Linked DNA regions of Homo sapiens: all the other regions are reported to be linked to region 5. The links are microRNA targets in miRTarBase. Many come from high-throughput screens and were not tested one by one. Region 5 holds a microRNA gene; each other region holds the end of a gene's coding sequence.

Region 1 (5,016 bases), not on the chromosome of region 5:
AGCCTGGGTGACAGAGTGAGACTCTGTCTGAAAAAAAAAAAAAAAAGAATCCAAAGTTGTTATGAAGTTCATGTGCTACCAGTTTTTTAATGAAGACTTTTTAATTTGCAGTTCAGATTGTTGAAAATGTGAGCTGTACATTAGCAAGGGTTTACTGTAAACATGTTATGATTCAGCTTTTGATAAACAATGTTTACACTTTTATTTAATGTCATCCATTTTTCCACAGGGTATGGACAGTGGATTTGCAGGTGGAGAAGATGAAATTTATAATGTTTATGATCAAGCCTGGAGAGGTGGTAAAGATATGGCCCAGAGTATTTATAGGCCCAGTAAAAATCTGGACAAGGACATGTATGGTGATGACCTAGAAGCCAGAATAAAGACCAACAGGTGCCAAGCCATACAACTCAATTTCAGTGTTTACACTGGTGAAAGCAAAGTAGTTCATAGTTTTTTCTCCTTTTCCTTAGATTTGTTCCCGACAAGGAGTTTTCTGGTTCAGACCGTAGACAGAGAGGCCGAGAAGGACCAGTGCAGTTTGAGGAAGATCCTTTTGGTTTGGACAAGTTTTTGGAAGAAGCCAAACAGCATGGTGGCTCTAAAAGACCCTCAGATAGCAGCCGCCCCAAGGAACACGAGCATGAAGGCAAGAAGAGGAGGAAGGAATAGGCACAGGTCTCTCCAAAGTGAATGAACTCTTACCCATAACCCTAATGATGCAAGTCATATGGGGGAACACTTTGTAAATGGTCAGGATAAAAACCAAATCTGGGTGCCAGATCCCAGCACTACTTTTTATTACTGGAGAAATGGGGGGGATAGAAAATTCTACTTTGAATTATTTAGTTTTTTTTAAAGAGTGGGTTGTGTTTGTGCTTCTCCCACCTTTCAGCATTTATAGAACATGCTGCCCCACATACAAAGTCAAGACCACTTACTTTTATGTGACACTAGTAGTTTGGGGTTAATGTTTTGTGTAAGAACAGCTGCATATGAGTAAAGTTACCCCAACCACAGTGAGGAGGAAGATGTTCACATACTGGAACTGTCCTGCCAAATAAATTTTGCCCCTATTGTGCTCTGTTTTAATTTGGAGTGGGCAAAGTAACCTCTTGCTTGGTGCAACTATTTGTTTCAAATAAAAACATTTAGACAAAATTCTCAGTTATGTTAACTTTATTAATAGGCTGCAGTCTCAAAAATCTTTCTTTTCATCATCAGATGTTTGCGGAAGTTTTGGCCTTCTAGTGTGAACCTGGACCTTAAAAAAATAAGCACTGTAAGGGAGGAAAGGCAATGTCTGCAAAAACATTCAAACTGAAAATCACTTTATTAGGGAGTCAGTATGAATAATGAATAACCCAGGCAGTTTTTATTTGTCCCTTGTTCTTTCGTTTTCTCCTCAAATTCCTTTTACCATCTTTGTTGGTATTATGACTCCCTAACCCTCAATTAAAAATTGTAAATCAGACCAGGGGCAGTGGCTCAGGCCTGTAATGCCAGCATTTTGGCAAGCTGAGGCAAGAGGATTGCTTGAGGCCAGGAGTTCAACACCACCCTGCAACATAGCAAGGCCCTGTCTCATTAAAACTAAAATTTAAAATAAAATAGTAAATCAGTTTGGCCCAGGATCACATGGTGGGTAAGCCAAGATTTCAGCCCCAGCTTGCCTGACCTGAAAAGCAGACTGCTGGCCAGGCGCTGTGGCTCACGCCTGTAATCCCAGCACTTTGGGAGGCCGAGGTGGGCGGATTGCCTGAGGTCAGGAGTTTGAGACCAGCCTGACCAACATGATGAAACCCAATCTCTACTAAAAATACAAAAAAAATTAGCAGTGCGTGGTGGCGCATGCCTGTAATCCCAGCTACTCGGGAGGTTGAGGCAGGAGAATCGCTTGAACCCAGGAGGCGGAGGTTGCAGTGATCCAAGATTGCACCATTGCACTCTAGCCTGGGCAACAAGAGCAAGACTCTCAAAAAGAAAAAAGAAAAGTAGACTGTTATGTCCACTGTGTTACATATCTTGCTACCCATTAAAGGGTCATCTTGTACTTTCCTGGACCTTTTAAAACTGGGCACTCTACCACCCCCCATTTTTTTTTTTTTTTTTTTTTTGAGATGGAGTTTTGCTCTTGTTGCCCAGGCTGGAGTGCAATGGCGCGATTTTAGTTCACTGCAACCTCTGTCTCTTGGGTTCTCCTGCCTCAGTCTCCTGAGTAGCTGGGACTACAGGCATGTGCCACCACGCCCATCTAATTTTTTTTGTATTTTTAGTAGAGATGGGGTTTCTCCATGTTGGTCAGGCTGGTCTCAAACTCCTGACCTCTGGTGATCCCCCCCGCCTCGGCCTCCCAAAGTGCTGGGATTATAGGCATGAACCACTGCGCCTGGCCTACCACCGCACCATTCTTTTTTTGTTGTTGTTTTGTTTGTTTGTTTGTTTGAGATGGAGTCTCGCTATCGCCCAGGCTGGAGTGCAGTGGCGCAATCTCGGCTCACTGCAGGCTCCACCCCCTGGGGTTCACGCCATTCTCCTGCCTCAGCCTCCCGAGTAGCTGGGACTACAGGCGCCCGCCACCTTGCCAGGCTAATTTTTTGTATTTTTAGTAGAGACGGGGTTTCACCGTGTTAGCCAGGATGGTCTCGATCTCCTGACCTTGTGATCCGCCCGCCTCGGCCTCCCAAAGTGCTGGGATTACAGGCGTGAGCCACCGTGCCCAGCCTCCACCCCACCATTCTTAACAAGCATTAAGGCAGCTTCAGTTACAAATCTCTCCAAGTCCCCATCATTCCACATTTATGATCTATTTAATTGATACATAATTAAATAGTACCTACATGTATATCATGTATGTATCTGGCATAGAAATAAATTTACCTTTACTCCATCTATAATATGATTTTCCTGTTGTAGTGCATTCCGAAGTCCTTCTTCTGAAGAAAACTGAACCCAACCCAAACCTCTGTGAAAGCCAGTCTCCTTGTCCTAAAAATTCAAAATATAGGAAAAGATTAATCATGAACTTCAGAAAGTTTCCATGAGTTCCAAATCAAACTACCAACTTTTTCATCTGCCAAAAATCGGACTTTTTAATTTAATTTTATTTTATTTTTAGGCAGGGTCTTGCTCTGTCACCCAGGCTGGGGTGCAGTGGTATGAACGCAACTCACTGCAGCCTCAACTTCCTGGGTTCAAGCAATCCTCCCACCTCAGCCTCTTCAGTAGCTGGGATCACAGGTACATACCACCATGTCTGCCTCATTTTTTATATTTTTTGCAGAGATGGGGTCTTCCCATCTTACCCAGGCCGGTCTCAAACTCCTGGGCTCAAGCAATCTTCCCATCTGGGCCTCCCAAAGTAGTGAAATTACAGGCATAAGCCACCATGCCCAGCCAAAAATCGGATCACAGACATTTATAAGTGTCAGTAACCTTGCTTTACACCCTTCCTGATTACCCAAGGCTAAATCCCTGTGTTGTTAAGCTTCCTGTTTTCCTTGCTGCCATTAGAGAAGATACGGGTCATGAGCTTTCTGTGTCATTCTAGATGCAAACCATACTAACAGTAATAGCTAAGGGAAATTTTGATCAGTACTCTTGTTCTAAGCTTCGTTTCTAGAAACTAGAAAATTAAGCCTCAAAGCCTTGTTGCACTCATTTCTGAATCCAGTCACCCTCACCACCACCACGACTATCATCACGTGTTCCTAATGAAAAACAAGAAAAGATAATATTTAGCCCTTACTCAACCTAGTTACAGACTTCTGGTTAATTTAAACAATTTTGCTATTTTCCCTTGTGCAAAAGTTTCAACCTATACATCGCATACGGAAAACAGATTCTAGAGTGCTTGGATGTACCCTGCCCCTCCAGCCCTTCGACAGAAAACAGATATTAAGATGTCTAGTCCCTGTAGATGACAAACTGGTCCTCATTAGTCTCATTCAAGTCATGCTGTGCTTTGCCAAAAAAAACAAAATCTTACAATTGCTCCTCTACTTCAAGGATAACTTTATAAGGATTAACCTAGAAGACGGAAAGTTTCTGGTGATGTCCCAATGATCCATTCATTGTAGATACAACAATTTCTAAAGCATTCCTTTATTGTCATGTGACCACTTCCACAGTCAAAGGCATTAAGAAATTTGTTTATATTAAAACATAGGCCAGGTGCAGTGGCTCAATCCCAGCACTTTGGGAGGCTGAGGTGGATGGATGGCTTGAGGTCAGGAGTTTGGGACCAGCCTGGCCAACATAGTGAAACTCCATCTCTACTAAAAATACAAAAATTAGCTGGGTGTGGTGGCCCATGCCTGTAGTCCCAGCTATCTGGGTGACTGAGGAAGGGGGATCACTTGAACCCAGGAGGCAGCGATTGCAGTGAGCTGAGATCACGCCTCTGCACTCCAGCCTGGGCGACAGAGCAAGGCTGTCTCAAAAAAAATAACTCAGTCCAGGTGTGGTGGCTCATGCCTGTAATCACAGCACTTTGGGAGCTGAGGTGAGTAGACTGCTTGAGTGCGGGAGCTCGAGACCAGCCTGGGCAATATGGTGAAGCCCCATTTCTACAAAGAGTACAAAAAATTAGTCAGGTGTGGTGGCACACGACTAATCCCAGCTACTCAGGAGGCAGAGGCAGAAGGATCCCTTGAACCCAGGAGTTCAAGCCTGCAGTGAACTTGATTGTGCCACTGCACTCCAGCCTGAGTGAGAGAGAGAACCTGTCTCAAAAAAGGAACCAGGATTTCCAACTAGAGTACAATGAATGGAACAAAAAAATATTTTTTTTGTCATATTTTATTTTGTTTTACCAACATCAAAGCCGCCTTTTATTTAAATCTAAGATCTATTCTTTGCAGGTCCTATTTTATTTATGGACCAATAAAAATCTATTCATTTTTTTGCAAGGAACTTTTTATTTAAATGCTCTTGAAAAAATTGAAGTTTTCAAACTTACAGAAAATATTTCATGTCCATAATACATGTGCCCAACTTTTCTATTCAACTATATAA
Region 2 (5,016 bases), not on the chromosome of region 5:
GCAAGATCTTAGGTCTCCTTCCAGCACTGAATCAGGAATGCTCCTGTGAAATACTCTGTTACTGCTGTTTCCCCTCTCCACGGTGAGAGGGGATGAGGCACTTCCTACTACTGGCTCACAGAACTTCAGAAAATATCTTAACTTTTTTTTTTTTTTGAGATGGAGTCTTGCCCTGTTGCCCAGGCTAGAGTGCAGTGGCACGATCTCAGCTCACTGCAACCTCTGCCTTCCAGGTTCAAGGGATTCTTGTGCCTCAGGCTCCTGAGTAGCTGGGATTACAGGCGCCTGCCACCATGCCCAACTAATTTTTAATTTTTATAGAGACGGGGTTTCACCATGCTGGCCAGGCTGGTCTCAAACTCCTGACCTCAAGTGATCCGCCTGCCTCGGCCTCCCAAACTGCTGGGATTACAGGCGTGAGCCACCGTGCCCAGCCCCATCTTAACTCTTAATCAGCCCAAAAGTATTATCAGCTGATAGGTCCCTGCTAACACAAGGGTGGGTGCTTCCCTGCCTGTGTGCTGCAGATGTGTGTCCATTCTCCACAGTCACTGTCCACTCAAGTGTCACCAGAGGCAGGGGGCCTGTGACACTGACCATCTATTTTCTAGTAACTTAAACTGATGCCACTTCTCTGTTTTTTCCCTTCAGCAATAACTGGAATTGTGACTCGAGGGATAGACCCCTGGATGTGACTCTTCTTTTTAAAAGGAAACTATGTGGAGGACGATGCAAAAACATATTTATCTTAGTTTGCTCTGCTGTAGTTCTGTTATTTATACTTGGTGTTGCTTGTCATGGACACCGGTGAACATGCCGTAACTCTGTGACTGCATTGTAAGTGCAGTGGGGGTAAGCAGTCCTGTGAGTGGCGCATGAACGCTGGAGCTTATTCCGCCGCCTGCCCCAGTGTGGGGGGAGATACCTTTACCATGAACTTACAGAATTAAAGATGGCCCATAAGGAATTCCAGACCAATATTTCTTCCTGCGGTTTATTCTATGTTTTATATATTATCTAAATATATGTATATGCTGTGTCATACTCATAATCTGGAAATGAATAAAGTGATATATTCCTGGTTTGTAAATTTGTTCCTAGTTTGTCTTTTTTCATGGTGATGTTTGTTTCCTTTGTGATATGAAAAGAGAACTATTTCCATTGAACATCTTATACATTTCATGCTGTGAAATGTCTTGTATTAAGTATCTAAAGAACAAGACATATTATGCAGCTGACCCTTGAACAACACAGGTTTGAACTGTGCGGGTCCATTTATATGAGGATTTTCTTCCACCTCTGCCACCCCTGAGACAACAAACCAGTCCCTCCTCCTCTCCCTCCACCTCCTCCTCTTCCCCTCCTCATCAATGTGAAGACAACAATGATGAAGACCTTTATGATGATCCACTTAATGAATAGTAAATATATTTTCTCTTCTTTATGATTTTCTTAATAACGTTTTCTGTAGCCTACCCTATTGTGAGAATACAAAATACAGTATGTAATTCATACAAAATATGTGTTGAATGGCTGTTTATATTATCAGTAAGGGTTCTAGTCAACAGAAGGCTATAGTAGTTAAGCTTTGGGAGAGTCAAAAGTTATACATAGATTTTTGCATAAGGGGGTCGGTGCCTCTAACCTCTGAGTTGTTCAAGGGTCAACTGTATAAACTGGTTCAGAACAACTTTGAAGACTAAATGGGAAAAAAAAAATAGTATGTGACCAGTGGAATCATCTTGCTAGGGGTTGGGTCCTAGGTTGAGCTTAAGACAGAATGACATAGTCTAAATTGCACCTAAAGCATTGGAGCAGATCACCATTTCTCTATTTGAGTTCCCGCTGAAGTACTACTGGCCTTGAATGTAGGGACTTAAAGAAAAATGTTTCTTTTTTTGAAACGGAGTCTCACTCTGTCGCCCAGGCTGGAGTGCAGTGGCAACATCGCAGCTCACTGCAAGCTCCTCCTTCTGGGTTCACACCATTCTCCTGCCTCAGCCTCCTGAGTAGCTGGGATTACAGGCGCCCGCCACCACGCCCAGCTAATTTTTTTCTATTTTTAGTAGAGACGGAGTTTCACGGTGTTAACCAGGATGGTCTTGATCTCCTGACCTCATGATCCGCCCGCCTCGGCCTCCCAAAGTGCTGGGATTACAGGCGTGAGCCACTGCGCCCGGCCAGAAAAATGTTTCTTTAAACGCTGGAATCGCATGAGGGAACTGGAACCTTACACCACTTTTCCCACTGTGCTTATTCTGGGCAGATGCCTGTTGAGTGGAATGACACTGGCACTATTGCCTGCTTTTTTCTTTTTCTCTTTTCTTTTTTTTTTGGTTAGGCACAGATGAATTTGCAAAAGTTAAGCACTGTATATGATACAACTCTACCACATGCAACATTTCTGAGGGGAAAGCAATTTGAGGGCAGAGAAAAGCACTTATCAGCATCCCCCTATTAGGTGGTGTCCTATATGATCTTGAAGGACACACAACTAATACAGTGATTACCTGGGCAGAATGATTTTGTTGTGTTTTTTTAAATCACTTGTATACTCTCTTCTACTATTAAAAAAAACAATGTTTTTGGCCAGGCGTGGTGGCTCACGCCTGTAATCCCAACACTTTGGGAGGCCAAGGCAGGCAGATCACTTGAGGTCAGGAGTTTGAGACCAGCCTGGCCAACATGGTGAAACCCCATCTCTACCAAATATAAAAAATTAGCTGGGTGTGGTGGCGCGCTTCTGTAATCCCAGCTGCTTGGGAGGCTGAGGCAGGAGAATTGCTTGAACCTGGGAGGCAGAGGTTGCAGTGAGCTGAGATAGTGCCACTGTACTCCAGCCTGGGTAACAGCAAGACTCTATCTCAAAAAAAAAATTTTTTTTGGAAAGACATTTTTGTAATAAAAATTTCAAAGTTAATGCAAGAGCAAAAGGCTATTCCAGATTCTGTGCCCTCCCCAGTCACTCCCCGGGGTTTGCTGTCATTGCACAGACTGGAACTGTGGGCACCTGCCATTTTGACTTTGGTTAGAGGTAAAAACATTAAGTTCTGGGATTTGTCATTACCATTGCTGCCTTCTGAGAAGTTAAATGGCAGGAAGCACGCTTTCCCCACATCCGTATCCTCCAGAGTATGCTGTGGGGAAGCATGGCCAAGTCTCTGAGGAGGCAGGGGCTACAGGAGGTGGAGAAGTGGAGGGGAGGGTGCTCCACAGCTACCTGATGAGACAGTTGTCAAGTGCCTGAAACTCAGGTGGGCGCAGTTAAGACAACTTTCCCCTTTTTCCTTCTGCTGGTGACCAGCCTGGAGCCACCTTCTGGAGGATGCTGCCCCTCTCCTTTGAGTCCCTAGTCATCAGCATCACAGAACACACCCCCTCAGCCCAGGTGACAGAGCCTGCTCTTGCAGGGCTAACTCTGGTCAAAACTGAACGTCGTCCTGCTTCCCTGTGCTTAGCATGTCAGCATCCCCCTCTTAGGCAGTGTGCCTGTCTCCTTCACTTTCTTGCTTACAATAGGAATCCTCAAATGGCTGAGTGGGTGGAGGGGTGGGCAATAACCAACAGAGTGTCTAGCCTCTGGCCACTGTCTAGTGAAATCTTCCCTCCAATCCAGACTCGATTATGGCATGAAAGATGCTTTTGTGATGACAAGAAAACCGCGTTAACTTCTCATCTCTTCTGGGTGCCAGGATATCAGTGAAGTGCTCCTGGGGGTTCAGAGCAACACAGGGAGGCACTCTCCTCCACACAGAGCCTCTTTCACCCCAGGCACTTGTTAGACCGTGTCTGGGGATTACCTCACCACCCTTTGGGGTGGTAGGTGGTGACTTCCCAGATGCCTCACATACCCATCCCAGAGGAAGAAGGAAGCGAGGGGCCCCGGGGGTGATGAGAGGTATTATCTGAGCTGGCCCCAGGCCAGGGTGAATAGTGGTGTCATGACTGCACAGCCCCTTGCCTGCAGCTTTCCAGCTCCCCAGGAAGACGACAACCTCCAGTGAGGCTGAGGGAAGAGGGAATGACAGGCTGCTGGGCTGAGGCGCCCTCATGGAGTTTGGGCCTGGGTGATCTCGGATCACGGTAATTGGAGCAGGCAGAATTGCATTATCCAGCTCCTTGGAAGTCACAGTGTGTTTTAGAAGGAATTGCCCTCTAAATGAGAGAGTGTTAGTTAATTGGCATGAACTTGGAATAGCACACAGCCGTTCCCAACAGGGCTGATTCTGGGGGAGAGTAGATTTACTCTGGCCCTTAATTGCCCCTGGCCCGTTGATTGCTTCCTCTATAGCCAGGCTAGAAGACTGGCCGGCGCCACACCAGTCAGCTCCTGGGGCATTTCTGAAGGTTGCAAGAATCCCAGAGAACAACCCCAAACCGATGTCCCTAGCCCCTCAGTGGCTTCACCCAGAAGCCCTAAGTGTCAGGAAATTCACTGAAAAAGATCTTGCAGCTCTTGTCTGCATCCTCATCCCCTCATTTTACTGATCAGGACACTGAAGCCCAGAGAGGGATGGGCTAGCCCCTCTAGAAACAACGGGGTGGAACGAGGACCCCATGCTCCTGAGGAGACCCATATGCCATCCCTGTCCTCTTTTGTGTTGGCATCCCCTTGCATCAAGCACTGGAGTCAGCTCTGCCCAGCAGTGAGGGCTGGCCTGCCCAGTCACTATGTGGTCACATATTAGTTGAACACAAGGGTCTGAGGCTGACAGTAAAAATCTCATTTGTGTTTAACCAGGGAATCATAAAAGTAATACATGCTCATGGTACATTCATGAGCTCATGGTTCAAAGAATATGAAGGGCTGGGCACGCCTGTAATCCCAGCACTTTGGGAGTTCGAGGCAGGTGGATCACTTGAGATCAGGAGTTTGAGACCAGCCTGGCCAACAGGATGAAAGCCCATCTCTACTAAAATACAAAAAAATTAGCCGGGCGTGGTGGCGTGCACTGCTAATCCCAGCTACTCAGAAGGCAGAGGCAGGAGAATTGCTGGAACTTGGGAGGCGGAGGT
Region 3 (4,878 bases), not on the chromosome of region 5:
TTATAGGCGTGAGCCACCACACCTGGCCTGTATATGTCAAGTTTTAAGAACACATATTAATCTCATTTAGTTGTACATAAACTGTGTCTTAGAAGGACACTGTAGAAAATCTTTCCGCAGCTCTAAAAATGGATTAAGGTAATGACTAAAAACATTTATTGGTTTATTTTTCATCTTTAAAATGTTTGCATCAAAGAAAAATAATATGGAATAAATAATATCTAGTGATTTCCCTGATGTCACAATATGCCATTGCTTTTTTACAGAGATAGACTCTCTGCTAGTGACATGCTCCAAGTCCGAAAAGTTATGGAACATGTTTATGAAAAAATTATCAACTTGGATAATGAGTCTCAAACCACTAGCTCTTCTAATAATGAAAAACCAGGAGAACAGGAAAAAGAAGAAGATATTGCTGTGTTGGCAGAGGAGAAAATTGAACTTTTGTGCCAGGACCAGGTAAGTGGACTTGAGGACTACAGCCCCAATTTTTCCAGTGCTGGTGCTCATAAAGAGTTACATGCCTTTGGGTGGGGGGCTTCTACTTTTAGAGGGGCTCTAAGGAGCCCTGGGCCTCTCCTACCTAAAGCCCACCCTAAAGCTCCTCTTTACTGCTGGGGAGATTTTCAGAGAAGGGATACATAGACAAATGTGGATGTGCTGGTAGCTTTTTTTTCTGACAAGAAAAAAGACACATGGTCTTCTTGATTTGCAAAAAGCATGTGCCATGTTTATGATTTAGAGTGAAGGTGTGCGGAGAAATGGCAGAACTGTTTTTTAAATCAAGATGCACTCAAAACGTATCCTCAGAGGAATGGCTGAAAGATGGCCTGGTGTTTCTGGCATAGTCACAAAAGATGTACATCTCACTAAGCTCAATTTCATTCCCGCATGCATGGAAGCCGTGACAGCAAGAATTGGATACCAGGCATAGGGGAGGAGTGAGCAAGCTGGATCACCTGATGAGAGTCCCTGAGTTAATGATAAGGTTTTAGATATTAGAGACTTTGAAATTTTTAAATTTAATTTTGGCTATTCAGGTTTTGGATCCAAATATGGACCTTCGAACAGTGAAACACTTCATATGGAAGAGCGGTGGAGACCTCACCCTCCATTACCGTCAGAAGTCCACGTGAAGGCTGGGCTAATGCTCCTGGATATTCATTTACGACCTTCCTCTATGGCCCCAAGAGTAGTCCTAGGAAGCCCACTGATCCCCAACGGGAGCAAGACTTCTAACGGCTGATTGGTATGGACCGAGATTATCTTTCAATTGAAGTGACTAATCGAGATGTAATATAGAAACCAGTCTCCATGTGTAGATTAAGCTGTCCCCAGGGAAGCAGAGTGCAAGAGCAGAAGAGCCCCAAGCAGACTATGTCTTTCAAGATGTACAGAAGACTGACAACAGGCCAGTGCAGACTTTGCTTCCTCCTTTTGTTTCAAAGGACCTTATCTACCCATTAACACTTGTTAGAGACACCTCAGTCGGGCCACAACTGTCTCTGTTTCAACTTTAAGCCCACACACTCTGTAGCTTTTCTAAAACAGTACATTCCATTCATGCAGTAGATATGAAGGCTTTTTCCAAGTTTGTCATATAAAGTAATCAAATTGTTTTCACCGTTTAAGACAGTTATTTTTAATGGGAATTTGCTGTTGCACAATTTGAGAACCAGCCCATTTCATAATAAAAGATTAATGTTGGGCTTGTTGTTAATATTGCATCTCAGATGTGTTCTTGTAGGAAGATCTGTTGAAATTCCAGGTGCTGGATCATAGCACTTGGACTGTTGGGCCGGAGTTTGTGCAGCCCATGCCTAGCGATGCTGCACCTCCCATGATGTCCTGGCTTTGTGGCAACCCCAGGGAGGTGCAGCAGTTTCACTCCTTCCTCCACTGTGTCCAGTTTTATTTACACAAAGCGAGCTGAGACCACAGGTTCTTGCTCTGGATGAGCAGCATGACACCATCAAAATTTAAGACCATGATGAAATTTCAGTTTCATTCAAATGTTACCTAAAATTTATGGTGTCAGAATAAAGGGAGATCATAGTGAGTTAATTTGATATTCATATCCTGGAAGTATACATATTTGTTTTTCCAAAGTTTTATATGCAGGTTTTTGTTGTACCTGTATCCAGATCTTCTTTTCACTGTTCTAACAATCTAACACTTTCATAGAATCATTTGGATCTTGTATAGAGTGTAACTTATTGGGGATAAACACTTCAACTTTTGGCAGAAAATACTTTGGATTCTCCCCAAGGTCATTTGTATTCAGAGTAAATCAGTGGTCCACCCCCATAAAACTGTAAGACAAGCCTCCTGTATGAAGCCAGAAGCACAAGTGCCTTCAGAGGGCAGTTGATTCCAGTCCAGTTGCCTCCCTAGCTTGTGTGTGGCCTGCCTCCACCATAGCAGGGACTAGGGAGGGAGGCAGGGAACGTTTTTTCTTTTCTACATCTTCACAGGTTCGGCTGGGGGCAGCTGATAGGCCTAAGGCCATACCTTACTATTTAAGATACTCTGATCGCACAACTGCAGAGACAGGGTTCCCTCACTGCTAGTCAGCTTCTTTTGGAAACTGGACAGGCCATTGCCACCTGCACTTTGAAGAAGTGAGCAAAGACGTGGCCACATTTCTAATAAGTTGAAATGGTCTTTCTCCCTTCCTCAGAGAGCAACCAGCTTCTTTTTTTTTAAAAGTCCTTTCTATCTGTTGGATACAACAGTGTGCTTTTGGTGCACATTTTTTAGCAATAGTTGTGAATTAATGGCAAAGAAAAAAAAAATTATTTACCAGCCCTCAGTTGTGTTTGCCCGAGGGGCCTTTGAGCAAAGAAATGGGTTTTGCTGGGTCATTTTGCCCTGTGTGCTAAGCCTTGGGTGGCTGCATTCCCCTCCTGTCATAGATCTGACCCCCAGCATGATTGTATTTCTTTCCCCTCCAGTCAAACCGTAATACAGTTTCCAGAAAATTCGACAGTCTGCAATGCCAAAAGGGTAAAAATCTGTATTTCACAGTTGTATAGAATAAAGGCTTTAGTTAAAATATTTCAAAGTGTAGTACACATTTATTTTCATTTGTTATTTTCTTTCATAGCAGATTACAGAGAAAGAAAGAAACCTCTGGTTTCATGTTCTCCCTGGAAATATTAGCATTGATACCCATTTTATCCTCCAACTTATGGGGGAAGGGAAAGTAAAAGTGAGGGAGGGAAGAGCCAGAACCTTTGGGTGAGGGCAACTTTGGGTCAGACTGCCAGGCTACAGAGTTAAGGGAAGCTGGCCCCAGAACAGTCCTGTGGCGATTCTGTTCTACTTCCTGCATTCCAGCAGACTTGACACTGGGCTCCCAGACGATCCAGGACACAATGCCTCACTGTTATGCACACGTATCAGCTGCTCTGGTAGGCTTGACAAGGGTTTGCTTTAAATGAAGGGTTTGCTAATTTGGGACCCTCCCTCCATATAGTTGGCCTGTGCCCCCCAGAGCAGACATTCCTTGTCCTGCATACCTGACACAGCTTGTGAGTTCCCTGCATGTACACCAGCATTACAAATGATCCTGTAAAGGTGAGACTTTCAACTAGGCACAAGCTAGAAGACGAGGCCAGAGCAGCTTTCATAGTAATTAGCAGTGTGGGAACTGAGGGTCCAGTCAACACAGCAGAGGACTTCAGGTGATGAGGGGCCGTCCCCAGGTGGAGTGCAGGGCCTAACCTAGCCTTAACCTCCAAAGGCACCTGGGGTGGGGAGAACAGCTTCCTCCCCTACAACAGGAAAGAACAAAAGGGTCTTTACCTACTCTTAATCTAATCCCCTAATTCCCCCTTGGGGTTGGGAACCGTGCGTGGATAGACCTAGTCAGGTAGACTGGCTTTGAGAAATTGCTTAGGGTGTTGAACTTAAATTTGTGACTTTTATTCACTATTGGGGCTGGGTAGATGCCTTGTATATTTAGAAGAGATCACTGTTTAAGTTTGGGAGCTAACAGGAGTTGCCACTGGGGATACAGGTCTGTGGCATGTAGTCCCTGAGGAAGAAGAAATATTGTGGTCTGGGCACAAATGGGTCTCTGCTGAAGGGCCTAGAATTTCCAACGCACCTCCCTCCAGGAGATGGGGGCAAGTACACTGCCTCTCTCTCCCTCCTGTGACTAGCATGGTGATCAGCCTGAGCCAAGTGTAGCATTGTAGCCTAGGGACAAGGACACATGACAGAGGACTCAGTGTTTGGGACTTGAAAGGGGGTGGTCCCAGGGCTCCAGGGTCCCTTCCAGTACAGATGGGGTGGGCTGAGCTGTGCAGGAAGAATCAAAGCGACCAGGCCAACACTGGACAGCAACCCCTTCCTTCCTCACCTCATCTTCACACTGGATTATGACCAGACCCTGCTGCCTCCTGGGAAGCCCCAGTGACCAGAGCAGGACCAAGCACTGGACCTGAGGGTACACGGCCAAAAGATATCCTCCCACAAGGCCCATGGCCCCCTCTCACCACCCACTGAGGCCTCATGTCCCACCAAAGCAGCAAGGAATCCTGACCGCATAGTGCAGCCCGGGCTGCCTGCCCACATCTGGGCCTCATGAAATGTCATCATGGGCCTTGTCACAGCCCAGGGTGTTATTCTGTGGTAGAGATCTGGGCCTGGCTGTCCAGCCCCTCAGCCTCCGTCCCAGTATCTAGGCCCTCTGTGCTTGCTGGTTCCTCCTCAGCCTGAGCTTCAAGCAGCTCGGCGGACAGCCCATCTTCTGGTGAGGCTGCAGAGGTGAGACTGTCAGGAAGAGTCAGCTGAGGCAGGTGGTCCGCCTGGGCTTGGGCACCTGGGCTGTCCAGGAAGGAGACCTCAAACTCTGACCCAGACCATGTAGCC
Region 4 (5,016 bases), not on the chromosome of region 5:
CCGGGGAAGGTGTGGGGGGTGAGTGCTTCCTGCAGAAGCCCCTCCGGACTGCAGCACAGGTGGTCCCACCTGGTTGTAGGGCAGGTCACTCACTTCGGTGGCAGGGGACACAGCCAGTGGGGGGTTGCACGCCTTTAACCCTTAGTGAGATGGAGAAGTAATTCATGGCCTATCAATCTTTTGACAATTAAATTAGATGAGTACTTGGAAAGATGCCTTTATTTTCCCTTCCTCCCCCCCGCCTCCCTTTTATGGCAGCATTAAAACACTTTTCATTTTAAAGCCTGGCCAGCAGGCAGTAGATTCCAAGGCTCTGGTTAACTAGGAATGCTTTGCTACATTGAAAGGAAAGTTCAAAACCAAGCCCAAACTCCCTGCCCTCTTCTTTGTCTCTGAGGATGGACGAGAGCGACGGGGCTGGCTGGGACGCATCCATAGGTGGCTGCGCACCTAGACGGTCCTGCTGAAGGAAGGCAAGGCACACAGATCTCCAGCAGCCGCTGCCCCAATTCCATCCACAGGGTTATTTCTAGGCTCCCACATTCCAAGGACATCCAAAACGCAGAGGGTGCACATCGTTCTGCAGTGTCTGGGGTCACCTCACAGCCACCCTCTTTGTGACCACTTGAAGCCCATTCACCAGGACTGTCTTTCTAAACTCCCTCCCAGGGCCTGCCTGGCTGTCCTCTGGGCACAGCTGGGCCACCATCATTAGAGTAAACCTCAACTCCAATGCAAATACTAAAATCCTTGGGAAGACCTGGCTACAGAAAAAGAGCCCTAGAAACAAAAATGATGAAATAGAAAGCACTTCTGTGGACAGCAACTTCTGGATCAAGTTCTGGCCTCTAAGGTTATAGTCCCACCCTCTACTAAGGCAGGGTCTATCTAGTTCAACCCTTGCATGCACTAACACCTCCCCTCCCACATCAAGAAACAACGCCAAAGGTCTCAAAACTTTGTGCTCACGACTAATACTGAGGCCTCAGGAAGGTAACAAATACGGGAGAAAATGAGCAAAGGGGCGACTCTGAATAGTATTACCCTGAGACACAGAAGGGGAAAAAAGTTAAGATTCGTACCTTTCCAAAAAAACCTTGGTAAGGATTCTTCCCCCCAGATAGCTCTCACGGGGGTAGAGGGAATACTGGCAAAGGTTGAAAGTGGCAGTTTGCATGTTTTTAACCCTCTCCATTTTCTAAGAAGAAAACACAGTCAATACATTTGATTGTCTTGAAAATGAAGCCAACCGATGAGAGCATTTAAAGTGCACATGTCACCTAACGACAACGACTGAGATGACTGGAATTGAGAGAAGACGCAGTCTCCTTCCAGGAAGCTCACTCGATTCTGGAAATCTGGGGGCTCTGGATAGGAACTCCATCTTTCCCCCAAAACTTAAGCACAGTTTCAGGCACGTGATTTCTTTAGCTTGATGGAGAACATGGTGTCCCGGCGTGGAAACAGTATGGGGAATTCAGTCCGAGTCACCCCAAAAAAACAACCCCTTCTCATGTGATAGAAACCAAGACAGGCCATTAGATCCAGCAACTAGAGCACTGTCAAGGCCATGAGCAAAAGCACAGGCAGCCACCATCCCAGGTAAATCCCCAGGACAGGAACAAATCCCCCTGAGGACAACTTCCAAGGGGGGAAGAGAGATGACAAAGGTATGTAAGCACAGTTCTTGGTAAGCGGTTCTGTTGCTGCACTGCAGACTGTATTCCTGGATGAAGTTGGGTGGTTTGAGGGAATTCCGGGCACTACTTTGATTTTAAACTTGTCCAACCAGAACCTGACCAAATCGTTTTGAGTGGGGTCTGGGCAGATGTGAAATCTCTATTTTTAAAAAAGACCACCAAAACAACCAAAGCAGATGAAACATCACAGCTGGGCGGGGAGTAAGAGACCCTCTAACATTGATGTCAAGCTCTGTGGCGACGTGCTCTAACTTCAGCATCCACGGTGTTTTTGTGAAGAGCACGTACGCAAGTAAATCCCATCAGCACCAACCTCGTATTGTTCCAAACCCGGAGAACAGGGGCACCCGGCCTACATTTACAAGGAGAAGAATGCAGGTTCAGTACTGCCCTCCTGCAAATCCCAGGAGGGGAACTCGGAGCCAGTGCCCAGAACAGACAGCCAAGCCCCGGGTAGATCTCAGGAAAGTCACGACAGATTCAGCTGTAACTTGGAGTTGTACAAATAGGTGAAAGAAAGAAACTTAACTTTTTGTTTAGGGTCTTTGCAAGGGGACATATTTTCAATAGAAAAATCAGCAGGTTTTGGCCTTTGGTCTGTTTCTGAAGGGTGAGTATTCTCCATGACAGAAAAAGGCAAAGGTAGGTCAGAGGTGGCGAGTTTCTTCATTCTCAAACAAGGGAGAAGACATCCTTTGATTAAAGAATGAGGCGGGGTGGGGGAGGGAAGGACATGGACCCCCTCCCTTTAAAATTTCATCTGGGCCTTCAAGGCACTTCAAAAGACACAGAGTGAACAGTGCTGGCTGCCACTTCACTCGGTATTGACTGGATAGTTTAGACTGTTGGGCTAGACCTGGCTCACCCTTAAAAAAAAACAAACACAAACACACAAATACAATAAATAAAACAAATGTAGGCTACAAATTTTAAACCAGACCTCTTTCAAATAAACTGAAAGATAAATATCTCCATCTGCAAGGCCAGCTTGCAATTCATCAATAAGCACCAAGTTACAGATTTTTCTTTTTTTAAGTGTGCTCAAAAGCCCCATGCTTCCGAGGGGCAAAAAAGCAAGAATTGAAGGCCACGTTGGAAGCACAAAATTTTCCAGGGCCTCCCTTCTGGTGTACGGGGCCTCAGAGGGCAACATTACCATGAACTGTCCTGCACACACCAGCTGGGGAAAGCCTCAAGTGAACAAAGATGAAAACACGGTGGGAAAAGCAAAAGCAAAGCCGAGCAGCAGGCAGCCATCTGTATCTGCTTCCAGGGGCAGAGTACAATTCAACAACAGACCTTTACATGTATTTTTGAAGAAATCCAATTTTGCCAAGGCCTCCTAACATAAGAAGGGCGCTTTCACAACCACGCCTTCCGGGCCAGCTCCTCTCCAGATCTGCACTGGCAGGAACTGCTACACATGGCTTCACCCTTCGCCTGAACCCACTTCTCAGCCAGCTGTCCTAGCTTCAGAGCACAGCTTCTGCCTGGCCTGGGTGCGAGGCTGACCCCTGGCAGTGGTGTGCCCTCACCCAGCAAGGGCCAGACAGCTGCTGTCTGGGAGAGGCACGACGGGGGCTCAGGAACACAGCCAGGAGGCCGTGGCCCCTTCTGAGTGGTCAGTGACAATCAAAAGGTGTCACGCTGCAGGGATAATGGTGAGTAGGCCTCTTCACTTTATCCATGGCCAAAACATGTGGGTAAACATGCTGGAAAACCAGGATATTTCTTCTGGATCTGATGACAGAATGAGATACTATGGGTTGTTTTGTTGCTTTAGTGCCTGAAACACCGAGATCGAGGTGGTGCACATCACGTCTTTTATACACATCAAGCCTTCTCTCACTGGTTTCACAAATGTTTGTCATCCCTAAAATGAAATGAGAAATACATGCAAAACACGGGTGGTATGTGCCCGGGATGGGTTTAGAGGGAAACCAGTCTCTGAGGAGTACTGGGTGAACTGCTGATATGCGGGGGCTCCGGGTCCGTCCAGGCACTGCCCTTGTGCTAAGTTGACCAGACGCCTGGTGCAGACTGGGCCTTCTTCTGGCATTCCCCGTGTGTATATGCAGACAGGTCCCCATGTACGTACACAGATCAAGTCCAAAACATCTGCTGTTTGGTTTTGTGTTCCCCCAAATAAAAGGCATTCGGAGGTTCAGACCTTACTTGGATACACTCTTTCAGCCTTTAGGAATTCCTGACGTGTCCAAAACCATCACCTGTACTTACGAGGCCATTACTTTCAGTGTAATCCTGAGTAGGGCCAGCCCAACCTGAGAGTCCTGGGCAGTCACAAATCATGGCCGAAGCAGAGTCTGGGCCTCCTTCCCCACCCGACACTCAATATCATCTGTTGCTTATTGTCCAGGACCTGGGGCCGCCCAGGAGGACTGGACGCTGAGGAGCAGTGGGCGTCCAGTGTAAGAGACTTGTGCACGCGGGGACAGCAGGAGAGGTGGGCTGGCCAGGATCAGGAGGCAGCTGCCTCAGCAGAGAGGAAGAGGGTCAGCAGAAGATCTCTTCACCCTCTGCTGATACTTCTGACGCGGGACCATCTGGAAATGTGAAAACCAAGAATGAAAAAAATTCAGAAAAACTGCTCCTTTCATTGAACTTCCTCCCCATCCCAAAGTCTTCTGTAATGCAAACAGGCGACTGGGGCTTATGGGCAATTAACTCTTCTGCGCACCGGGGTTTCTGAACAAATTTGGTTAATAAGGTTCTTAAGTGATATCCTTCACTGCCTAATGCTCCCTTTAACTTTTAAATAATCACTAGAATTTATGAAGAGGCCAGGAAAATGTACTTTTTCTTTAACCTCCCACACAGAAAGGAGAGATCAATCCTAAAGAGAAGGATTCAGGGGAAAAAGTGGTACATGAACAGGGAGGCATTTAGTGGAATTCAGCCGCAGGCTCTGTGGCCGCTGGCACATTAGTTAGCCTCTGTGAGCCTCAGTTTCCTCACTTCTCTTGGGGTTAGCAGTGCCAACTTCATACAGTCATTTGAGGGTTAAATCACCAAATGCTAGCTGTTACCAATGACTACTCTAGGCCCAGAAAGGCAAGGAGGACTTGAATTACTTCATTGAGGGGTGAGCTCCAGTTCCTCGATCGGATAATGCCTTGAAAATGAAACCCATGCTCTCTGCTTCTGCACACGTGCCACACAGAGTGGGTTCTTAATGTTCGCTGCATGAGTGCTCTTAGCAAGCGGAGCTGGTGAAAAGGATGGCAGTTTGGCTTTTGAGCATCTGAACTGTCCCCTTTTCAACCCCGCCCCATGCCACTAAAATCTACCCTCTCTC
Region 5 (4,000 bases):
TCATAGCGGGTGGTCCGGCGGCTGCCATCAGCTCTTGGCTCAGCCTCGATGGTGATGGCCTGCGGGAGGGGCCACCAGACACTGCCACGCTGCCCTGTCACATCCCAGCCCCCAGGGCCCCTGTCACTGCTCATCCCCACCCCTGGGGTCTGCCAGAAGCCCTCTCCCCTCAAAGGCCTCCTGGACTCCGGCTAAGAGGCCGCCCTGCACCTCTGGTGCTCGCGCCTGTCTCCTCAGCACGTGCCCTGCTGGCGTCCCTGCCTTGCTGGTTTTTTTTTTTTTTTTTTTTTTTTTGAGATAGAGTCTCGCTCTGTCGCCAGGCTGGAGTGCAGCAGCACAATCTCGGCTCACTGCAACCTCGGCCTTCCCGGTTCAAGTGATTCTCCTGCCTCAGCCCCCTGAGTAGCTGGGACTACAAGTGTGCATCACCACGCCCAGCTAATTTTTGTATTTTTTAGTAGAGATGGGGTTTCACCATGTAGACCAGGATGGTCTCGATCTCTTGACCTTGTGATCCGCTTACCTTGGACTCCCAAAGTGCTGGGATTACAAGCGTGAGCCACCGTGCCCGGCCTGCCTTGCCTGTTTGTCAGCTGCTGGCGTCATCTGCCAAGAACCCCCTCTCACGAGGGGGCTGTTCACCGCTTTGTTCAGTGTAGCACCCGCTGCCCTAAGGGTCTCACCCTGCGGTGAGTGCTGAGTTACAGTCCCGCCTCGCCTCACCAAGCTTTCCAGATATTTTGAGTTTTACAAATTGAAGGTTTGGGGCAACCCTGCATAAAGCAAGCTCACTGATGTCATTTTACCAACCATGTGCTTGCTTCTTATCTCTGGGTCAGCACTTTTTAGGAATAAAGTTTTTGTTGTTGTTTTTGTTTTTTGAGACAGAGTCTTGCCCTGTCACCCAGGCTGGAGTACAGTGGTGCAGCTCATAGCTCACTGCAGCCTCAACCTCCCAGGCTCAAGCGATCCTCCCACCTCAACCTCCCAAGTAACTGGGCCTACAGGGGCTAATTTTTTGTATTTTTTGTTGTTGTTGTAGAGTCGGGGTTTTGCCATGTTGCCCAGGCTGGTCTCAAACTCCTGGGCTCAAGTAATCCCCTCACCTTGACCTCCCAAAGCACTTGGACTACAGGTGTGAGCCACTGTGCCTGGCCCCTAAAGTATTTTTAATTAAGGTATATACATTGTGTTTTAGACACTTCGCAGCCTACAGTACAGTGTAAATCCTTTTTTTTTTTTTGAGACGAAGTCTTGCTCTGTGGCCCAGGATGGAGTATGGTGGTGCAATCATAGTTCACTGCAACCTCCGCCTCCCAGGTTCAAGCAATTCTCCTGCCTCAGCCTCTTGAGTAGCTGGGACTACAGGTGTGCAACCCCACACCCGGCTAATTTTTGTATTTTTACTAGAGACGGGGTTTCAACATGTTGGCCAGGCTGGTCTTGAATTCCTGACCTTGTGATCCGCCCACCTTGGCCTCCCAAAGTGCTGGGATTACAGGCGTGAGCCACCGCAACCGGCCCTAATTTTTTTTTTTTTTTTCAATTTTGGCTCACTGCAACCCCCACCTCCCGGTTCAAGTGATTATCGTGCCTCAGCCTAGCAAGTAGCTGAGATTACAGGGACCTGCCAACGTGCCCGGCTAAGTTTTGTTATTTTTAGTAGAGACGGGGTTTCACTATGTTGGCCAGGCTGGTCTCGAACTCTTGACCTCAAGTGATCCGCCCACCTCGGCTTCTCAAAGTGCTGGAATTACAGGCATGAGCCACTGTGCCCGGTCTAAATCTAACTTTTAAATGCACTGGAAAACCAAAACAGCTGTGTGACTCAGTTTACCCCGATGGTCTGGAGCCGAACCTGCAACATCGCCAAGAATGCCTACACTGTTGGGTGCAATCCTGTGCCTTAAATCTACTTCTCTCCATTTGATGGATGAGAAAAACAAGGTTCCGAGAGGTTGAGGGGCTCCCCAAAGCTACACAGCAAGTGGGGGCACAGCCCAAACTCAAGGGCACGTCCTAACTCTCAGTTCCTGGGTAGCCCGCTGGGGGAGGGGCTGGCTGGGAAAACCTTCAAATGTGCTTGGCAAGGACTCTCATATGCCCCCATCCCAGAAATGTAGTGTCCACAACTCACAGTGGGACCTGTGGCTGGCAGGCTCATCCTTTAGTGCTTATAAAGATGGAGACAATAACCTCGACCTCCTCGAGGGGTTGTGGAGATTACAGGAGAGGCTGTGAGTCACACACATGGCACAGCACCGGGTCTGTCTGTGGACAGCACTCACTGTCTGGAAGCCAAGGTTGTGACCATCGTGACTGCTGTTTGGGGACACTCCTATGCACTCTCAGTCCGTGGCTGGAGTAGAGACATCAGGGCCGCAGCTCATGGCCTGGAGGACCTGGGAGTGCTCCAGAGGACAAACTAGGATCTGGACAGGAGCCACCCGAGTCACAGAACACTGGGAGGGGTTGCTGTGCACACAGAAAGTAGCGGCGGCGGCTGCCGGGGCTCCTGCCAGGCACACACAGGGGTCTGACCAGAGCTCTGACCGAGTCATATTGTTCCCGTGCTGGCAGGCCTGGCCCCCACGGGTAAGCACGAGACCCACTAAGAGAACGGAAAGCCGGGCCTCAGGGGAGCAGCCACTGGGGAAGGGAAGCTGCAACAGGCACACAAGCAGGACTCCGGAAACGGTGGCTACATCCAGGGAGGCGTGGATGGCCTCAGGTGTCACCCCATGGCTCAGAGGCCCAGGGGTCACACCCTTGGCCAGACCCCAAGGGGGAACCTCTGTGTGTCAGGCGCCTGCCCAGGGCTGGAAGCTTCACTCTGCCAACTCACTGACTCTGTGCTCTGGTAACAAGCCCTCATCATTCCCATTCACGAGGGAAGTGGCTCAGAGGGGGAAAGGGACTTCCTGGGGACGCACATCAAGCAGGGGCTAGGGTTTGGGCCTAGGGCTGCCTGGCCTCCCTCTCCCAGTGGCAGGGGCTGGCGTGGTGGCCGGTTGGGGCAGGGGCTCACCTGGGCGGGGCAGATGGCCTCGCAGAGCTTGCAGGCAATGCAACGCTCCTCCCCGGATGGGTACCGGCGCAGCGCATGCTCCCCACGGAAGCGAGGGCTCAGCGGGCCCTTCTCGAACGGGTAGTTGATGGTGGCCGGTTCCCGGAACAGGTAGCTCAGGGTCATGCCCAGGCCTGTGGGCAGCACGGGTGTGGTGGGCAGGGGCACCCTCCTCCCCCATGCATCCGTGCCCACCCGGCACCTTCCCTGTCCCCTCATGCCCAGGACGCACCTCGGAAGAGCTCAGTCCACAGCAGGGTGCGGGCTGCCCGGTCAGTCACTGACTTCATGTCCATCTCGGGATCCTGCATGTTCACATACTCTGCAGAGAGGCGGGCAGGGAGGCCATGGCAAGAGGCCTCACACACTGTCTCCCTGGAGCCTCAGGGAGAGCAGCCTGGCCCTCACTTCCAGGTGCAACTGCTGGGCTACAAAGGGGCTGTACACTCACCACACCTCTCCCCAGCCTCAGCAAGGACCCTGGAGGCCGCCTCTGGCCTGAGCCCGTCCGTGCCTACCTCTCCCTGTGCTTGGGTGGCCATTGGAGCCCAGACGCACTTCCCTGCCCAACAGGGCTTGAAAGAGGAATCAAGGGGGGTAGGTGGGGGGCTTGAGCCTTTGCCTTCACCAGGGACTGGCAATAGGCACAGGTACCCATGGCTCACACCTGGCAACCCCCTCCCCATCACACCCAGGGAGCTCTGAGATCACACATGCTAACCTCGGCAATGATGGACCCTGCCCCTGTGAATCAGAGTCAGTCTCCATCACCATAATCATTTTAAAAGTGGAAACAGGCTCAGAGAAGAACGCCCCTGACAAAGCCAGGACTGGAACTCAGGTCTCTTCCCCTACTCCAGCAGGACCAGTCAGGAACACCTGAGGCTAGAGGCCACCCAGGTACTCACTGTAGGTGGCTGCCACTGCACTGCT
Region 6 (5,016 bases), not on the chromosome of region 5:
TGTACCAACAATGATGAAAATAAGCTTCCAAAGAAATTTGCTCACAGACCATTAGAAACAGTTGTACTTGTGCTGAAATCCATAAGTACTGCTCATGATATAAAAGAGTGCAATCTGTTCCCTTTTTAAAGATCTATCACTTTTATTTTTTATTTTTTTTTGGAGATGGAGTCTTGCTCTGTCGCCCAGGCTGGAGTGCAGTGGTGCCATCTTGGCTCACTGAAACCTCCCAGGTTCAGGTGATTCTCCTGCCTCAGTCTCCCAAGTAGCTGGGATTACAGGCTTGCACCACCATGCCCAGCTGATTTCTGTATTTTTAGTAGAGACAGGGTTTTACCATGTTGGCCAGGCTGGTCTTGAACTCCTGACCTCAGGTGATCTGCCCGCCTTGGCCTCCCAAAGTGTTGGGATTACAGGCGTGAGCCACTGCACCCAGCAGATCTATCACTTTAGAAGTTACTGTGGTAGCTGGGTGCAGTGGCTCACGCCTGTAATCCCAGCACTTTGGGAGGCTGAGGTGGGCAGATCACCTGAGGTCCGGAGTTCGAGACCAGCCTGACCAACATGGAGAAAACCTGTCTCTACTAAAAAATACAAAAAATTAGCTGGGCGTGGTGGCGCATGTTTGTAATCCCAGCTACTCGGGAGGCTGAGGTAGGAGGATCGCTTGAACCTGGGAGGTGGAGGTTATGGTGAGCCGAGACTGCGCCATTGCACTCCATCCTGGGCAACAAGAGCGAAACTCCGTTTCAAAAAAAAAAGAAGTTATTGTGGTAACATGTAATTTCAAATCTTTCCAATGCCCAGCAACTATATCTCCCCTCTCGCCCATCCAAGACGGAGTCTTGCTCTGTTACCCAGGCTGGAGTGTAGTGGCGAGATCTCGGCTCACTGCAACCTCTGCCTCCTGGGTTCAAGCAATTCTCCTGCCTCAGCCTCCCAAGTAGCTGGGTTACAGGTGCCTGCCACTGCACCTGGCTTATTTTTGTATTTTTAGTAGAGTTGGGGTTTCATCATGTTGGCCAGGCTTTTCTCAAACTCCTGACCTCATGATCTGCCTGCCTTAGCCTCCCAAAATGCTGGGATTACAGGCATGAGCCACCATGGCCAGCCACAACTATAATTTTATTATATTTTGTCACTTAAAGCATCCCCTCAGTGTATCAGTTGAGTTTAACAATATCATTTATTAAATATGGCCTTCCTGGCCGGAAGCAGTGGCTTGCCTGTAATCCCAGCACTTTGGGAGGCTGAGGCAGGTGGATCATGAGGACAGGAGATTGAGACCATCCTGGCTAACATGGTGAAACCCCATCTCTACTAAAAATACAAAAAAATTAGCTGGGTATGGTGGCGGGCGCATGTAGTCCCAGTTACAACGGAGGCTGAGGCAGGAGAATGGCGTGAACCCAGGAGGCGGAGCTTGCAGTGAGCCCAGATCACACCACTGCACTCCAGCCTGGGCGACAGAGCGAGAATCTGTCTCAAAAAAGAAAAAAATATGGCCTTCCTGTCTTATGATGTGACATCTTACCAGAAGTGTGCATCTTCTTTATCTGTCTTCCTTTCACTCTCACAGTTTATAAGGGTTTAGGATTCCTACTTATTGATCTTTGTCAAAAGTCTGTTTGTCAGAGTAAGAGAGTCCTGAAATAAAAGAATAAGGGAACCTGGGTGGAAGGGAAAACCTCCTCCATGGCCAGCACCCACATTTTAACATTAAATAAGAAAGCAATTTAAGCCAGGTGCGGTGGCTCACACCTGTAATCCCAGCACTTTAGGAGGCTGAGGTGGGCAGATCACTTGAGGTCAGGAGTTCAAGACCAGCCTGGCCAACAAGGTGAAACCCCGTCTCTACTAAAAATGCGAACATTAGCCGGGTGTGGTGGCATGCGCCTGTAATCCCAGCTGCTTGGGAGGCTGAGGCAGAAGAATCGCTTGAACCTGGGAGACAGAGGTGGCAGTGAGCCAAGATCACACCACCACCGCACTCCAGCCTGGGCAACAGAGAGCAAGACTCTGTCTCAAAAACAAACAAACAAACAAACAAAAACGTAATCAGAAACAGCATCAGTCTAGCACCTAAATTATGTATCCTACTGAAGAGATAAGTGTTTAAGAGACTCAAGCTCATGCAATCAGGTGTGCTGAGGTAACAGGCAACTAAAAGAAGCAGAAAAAACCAGTTTACAAAAAAACCAAAGCACAGCTTCAAATAAGACACAGCTCTGCCCTGGGAACTCTTGTGGCACAGCCACCTCGTTCAATATGGCAGGCACTGTCCCCAAAACAAAAGACATCAGCAGAGGAGACACAGTCTGTTTCAGGGCAGTACCAAATATATAAAAAAACAAGGTTTTGGGGAAGATACATGCTATGAACCAAGCACATGGCAGGTATCCAGAATCCTCAGTTCTATATAGATTTATCAGACCATTATCCACGGGCTTCCTGACACAGAGCTTCCAGTCATCAGGAACTAGAAGGTGATGGGCATACCACATTTGGTGCCTGTACATAAGAAAATCTGAGGTGGAGTGGGGAATGGGAACACTTTCTTTACTCAGAATTTTATTTTTCAGTGTGTACACAGAATAAAAATCTTCTTAGTGCTATAACAATCTCAGAATTCTAATGCTTTGCTGCTAAAAGCAAATAATATAAAAATTGTTTTTCTCAATGGATAGATATCTTCTTGCTTTAATTATATAATATTTTCTTCAATTTTTGGCATTGCTCCTTCCTTATTTTTATTATTTTTTCTCTTTTTTTCCTGCAAACACTATGGCAACTTGGGCATTTGCTACTTCTTGATTGCAGCATCTAGAAGCAGATGACAAAATGAACGAGTGAAAAAACAACTTTTCCCTGTGCTTAGTTCACTTAAGCTTCTTTGTTTTGTTTGATGGTCTTGACAGTATGATTTTGGATCGCTTAATATATAATATTGTGTTGTGCTAGAAAAAACTAACATATACATGTATTGTTTTCATTTAAAAATTAATTAAAGAGAAAGAGAAAAGCAACATTTTAATGCCCCAGGAATTGAAACTAACGTTTTCTGTCTCGGCTGGACCCCTACGCCCATCTTTTGATTTGCTGATATCATTTGCCATGTGATGGTCAATACATGTCTGCTGGGTAAGCAGTAAAATTCTGGGGGCAAGCCAGTTTTGAGAAGCTTATAATCTGACTGGGGGAGACATATCTTCAAATTTTGGAAAGATATTTAATTTCTAATTATCTTAAAAGCAAATAAAAGAAACATCAACTGACCATGATCCTGCACATTTCTCATCTCAGCATCACTACGGTAAAATAAGCCAATGATGAACACTGCCATTTCACTACAAACTCTCTCCTTTTATTAACGTTGAGTATGAACACGAAACGTGATCACCTGTTTAAAAGAAAAACACCGCTTTGTTCTTTGACAATTTCAAAATAAGGAACTTTGGGTTTTTATTCCTTTTAAGAGTTTCTGTAGTTGACTGTTTTTTTCTTGCTATACAATTCTCCTTGGATCTGTATTACCTCAGCTCCTTAGATACGGCAAGGGTAGAGAGTCCTCACTTAAAAAAATTTCCTAATTGTACACATTAAAAGCTAATATTTAAGAAAAACCCTCTTAATCCTCCAACCCCTATTCCTACTGTGAATAATCTGGTTTAATACAAGTTAAGTCTATAAATAAATCTGTTCTTTCTCCTCAAAAAAACAGTTAAGAAACTTTACAAGAATTACAGGTTTAAAAAATTTACCGAGAGAAATCAAAGTACTGTCACTTAACCCCTATTAACATACGGTGTTCAAGCCTTCCAGTATCAGCGCCTTTTGCATAGCATCGCTGCTAGTCGTTTCACTAGCATGCTGGCTAGGAGTCTTCTTAGTCACTCTTTTCTTCTCCTTGATAGTGTCTGTACTCTGGCTTCAGCTCCCATGTGTTTTTGTGGATCCCTTTTACATTCTGAACACCAATTTCTTTTAAGATTTCCTTCAGGTACACCTAAAACAAAAACAAAACCCCTAACAAATGAGATTATAAATGCAGGGGACAAAACTTAAAATAAGATGATATGCCAAAGCACATATGCAAGCCATAAAAATTATGATCCTAAAAGCTCAGCAAGATTTCTCTATAAGGAGGTTCAATAAACTGCCTTTTGATTCTACATGTGCGACATGGTAACTGCACTAAATATATGATCATGTGCATTAAAGGAGTTGAAAGTCCTGAATGCCAACAACTTAAAAGCTAAAACAAACAAACAAAAAAAACACAAAAAACACTACATGAAATACACGAAAAAATTACTGGTCCTCACTCAGTGTGACACGGTACACCAAGGGTAATCTGCCCTTGAGTTCAGTGGCCTCATGGGACTCAGTTCACAGATTGAAACCAGTAGTTTCAGGAGCAGTAGCATATAAAAAAAATGAGCAACATTTTTGAGAATATTCTATCAAGCAGGCATATGACAGGTATTCAGAATTCTCAGTTCTAAGGTGAGTTCTCAAATTTGTTTTTAGGCCACCCACTTATTTTTTCCTATGTGAGAAGGAGAGTTGTTATTTGTATTTACTACTATTTGTACTTTAGCCAAGCTTGCCAACACAGATAAGGGAGTAAGAAGTGATAATAAGGCCGGGCTTGGTGGCTCACGCCTGTAATCCCAACACTTTGGGAGGCTGAAGTGGGCAGATCACCTAAGGTCAGGAGTTCGAGACCAGCCTGGCCAACATGGTGAAACCCCGTCTCTACTAAAAATACAAAAATTAGCCAGGCATGGTGGTGGGAACCTGTAATCCCAGCTACTAGAGAGACTGAGGCAGGAGAATCACTTGAACCCAGGAGGCAGAGGTTGCAGTGAGCTGAGACTGTGCCATTGCACTCTAGCCTGGGCAACAACAGTGAAACTCTGTCTCAAAAAACAAATAAATAAATAAAGTGATAAGAAGACATCCCCTAAAACTATCAGGGATGCAGCCTTGTGTTTGGCTTCTCCAAAGAAAAGA

Evidence for each region. Region 5 holds the annotated microRNA hsa-miR-4691-5p (GUCCUCCAGGCCAUGAGCUGCGG, at 2,380-2,402, opposite strand). A microRNA usually pairs through its seed, bases 2 to 8, with sites in the 3' UTR of a target mRNA and lowers its output. Matches are read on the target gene's strand: a 7mer-m8 pairs with bases 2 to 8, a 7mer-A1 pairs with bases 2 to 7 and ends in A, and an 8mer does both.
Region 1: the mRNA of SNW1 is a reported target of hsa-miR-4691-5p. Seed matches in the 3' UTR shown: 7mer-A1 at 1,024-1,030.
Region 2: miRTarBase lists CFAP20 as a target of hsa-miR-4691-5p. Seed matches in the 3' UTR shown: 7mer-m8 at 721-727.
Region 3: miRTarBase lists GORASP1 as a target of hsa-miR-4691-5p. Seed matches in the 3' UTR shown: 7mer-A1 at 3,769-3,775 and 7mer-m8 at 3,180-3,186.
Region 4: the mRNA of AKAP13 is a reported target of hsa-miR-4691-5p. Seed matches in the 3' UTR shown: 7mer-A1 at 229-235.
Region 6: the mRNA of GTF2F2 is a reported target of hsa-miR-4691-5p. Seed matches in the 3' UTR shown: 7mer-m8 at 3,633-3,639.

What each region holds. Positions count from the first base shown.
Region 1 is chr14:77,713,744-77,718,759 of GRCh38, reverse strand. SNW1 (SNW domain containing 1) reads left to right here. Exons shown (of 14, transcript NM_012245.3): 13 at 230-393; 14 at 474-1,161. The coding sequence ends at 672. SLIRP (SRA stem-loop interacting RNA binding protein) reads right to left here. Exons shown (of 4, transcript NM_031210.6): 3 at 2,881-2,988; 4 at 1,162-1,264. The coding sequence ends at 1,199. Among named protein-coding and RNA genes, the nearest start is that of SLIRP, 8.1 kb to the right of the region's middle.
Region 2 is chr16:58,109,666-58,114,681 of GRCh38, reverse strand. It overlaps CFAP20 (cilia and flagella associated protein 20), which reads left to right. Exons shown (of 6, transcript NM_013242.3): 6 at 652-1,090. The coding sequence ends at 657. Among named protein-coding and RNA genes, the nearest start is that of CFAP20, 17 kb to the left of the region's middle.
Region 3 is chr3:39,093,608-39,098,485 of GRCh38, forward strand. It overlaps GORASP1 (golgi reassembly stacking protein 1), which reads right to left. Exons shown (of 9, transcript NM_031899.4): 9 at 2,992-4,878. The coding sequence ends at 4,629. WDR48 (WD repeat domain 48) reads left to right here. Exons shown (of 19, transcript NM_020839.4): 18 at 267-459; 19 at 1,041-3,057. The coding sequence ends at 1,136. Among named protein-coding and RNA genes, the nearest start is that of GORASP1, 12 kb to the right of the region's middle.
Region 4 is chr15:85,743,876-85,748,891 of GRCh38, reverse strand. AKAP13 (A-kinase anchoring protein 13) reads right to left here. Exons shown (of 37, transcript NM_007200.5): 37 at 1-4,264. The coding sequence ends at 4,215. Among named protein-coding and RNA genes, the nearest start is that of LINC02883, 12 kb to the left of the region's middle.
Region 5 is chr11:68,032,312-68,036,311 of GRCh38, reverse strand. MIR4691 (microRNA 4691) reads right to left here and starts at 2,415; the gene lies at 2,331-2,415. It overlaps NDUFS8 (NADH:ubiquinone oxidoreductase core subunit S8), which reads right to left. Exons shown (of 7, transcript NM_002496.4): 3 at 3,976-4,000; 4 at 3,300-3,389; 5 at 3,029-3,201; 6 at 1-59. MIR7113 (microRNA 7113) reads right to left here and starts at 3,448; the gene lies at 3,390-3,448.
Region 6 is chr13:45,282,432-45,287,447 of GRCh38, reverse strand. GTF2F2 (general transcription factor IIF subunit 2) reads right to left here. Exons shown (of 8, transcript NM_004128.3): 8 at 2,555-4,006. The coding sequence ends at 3,887. Among named protein-coding and RNA genes, the nearest start is that of SNORA31B, 52 kb to the left of the region's middle.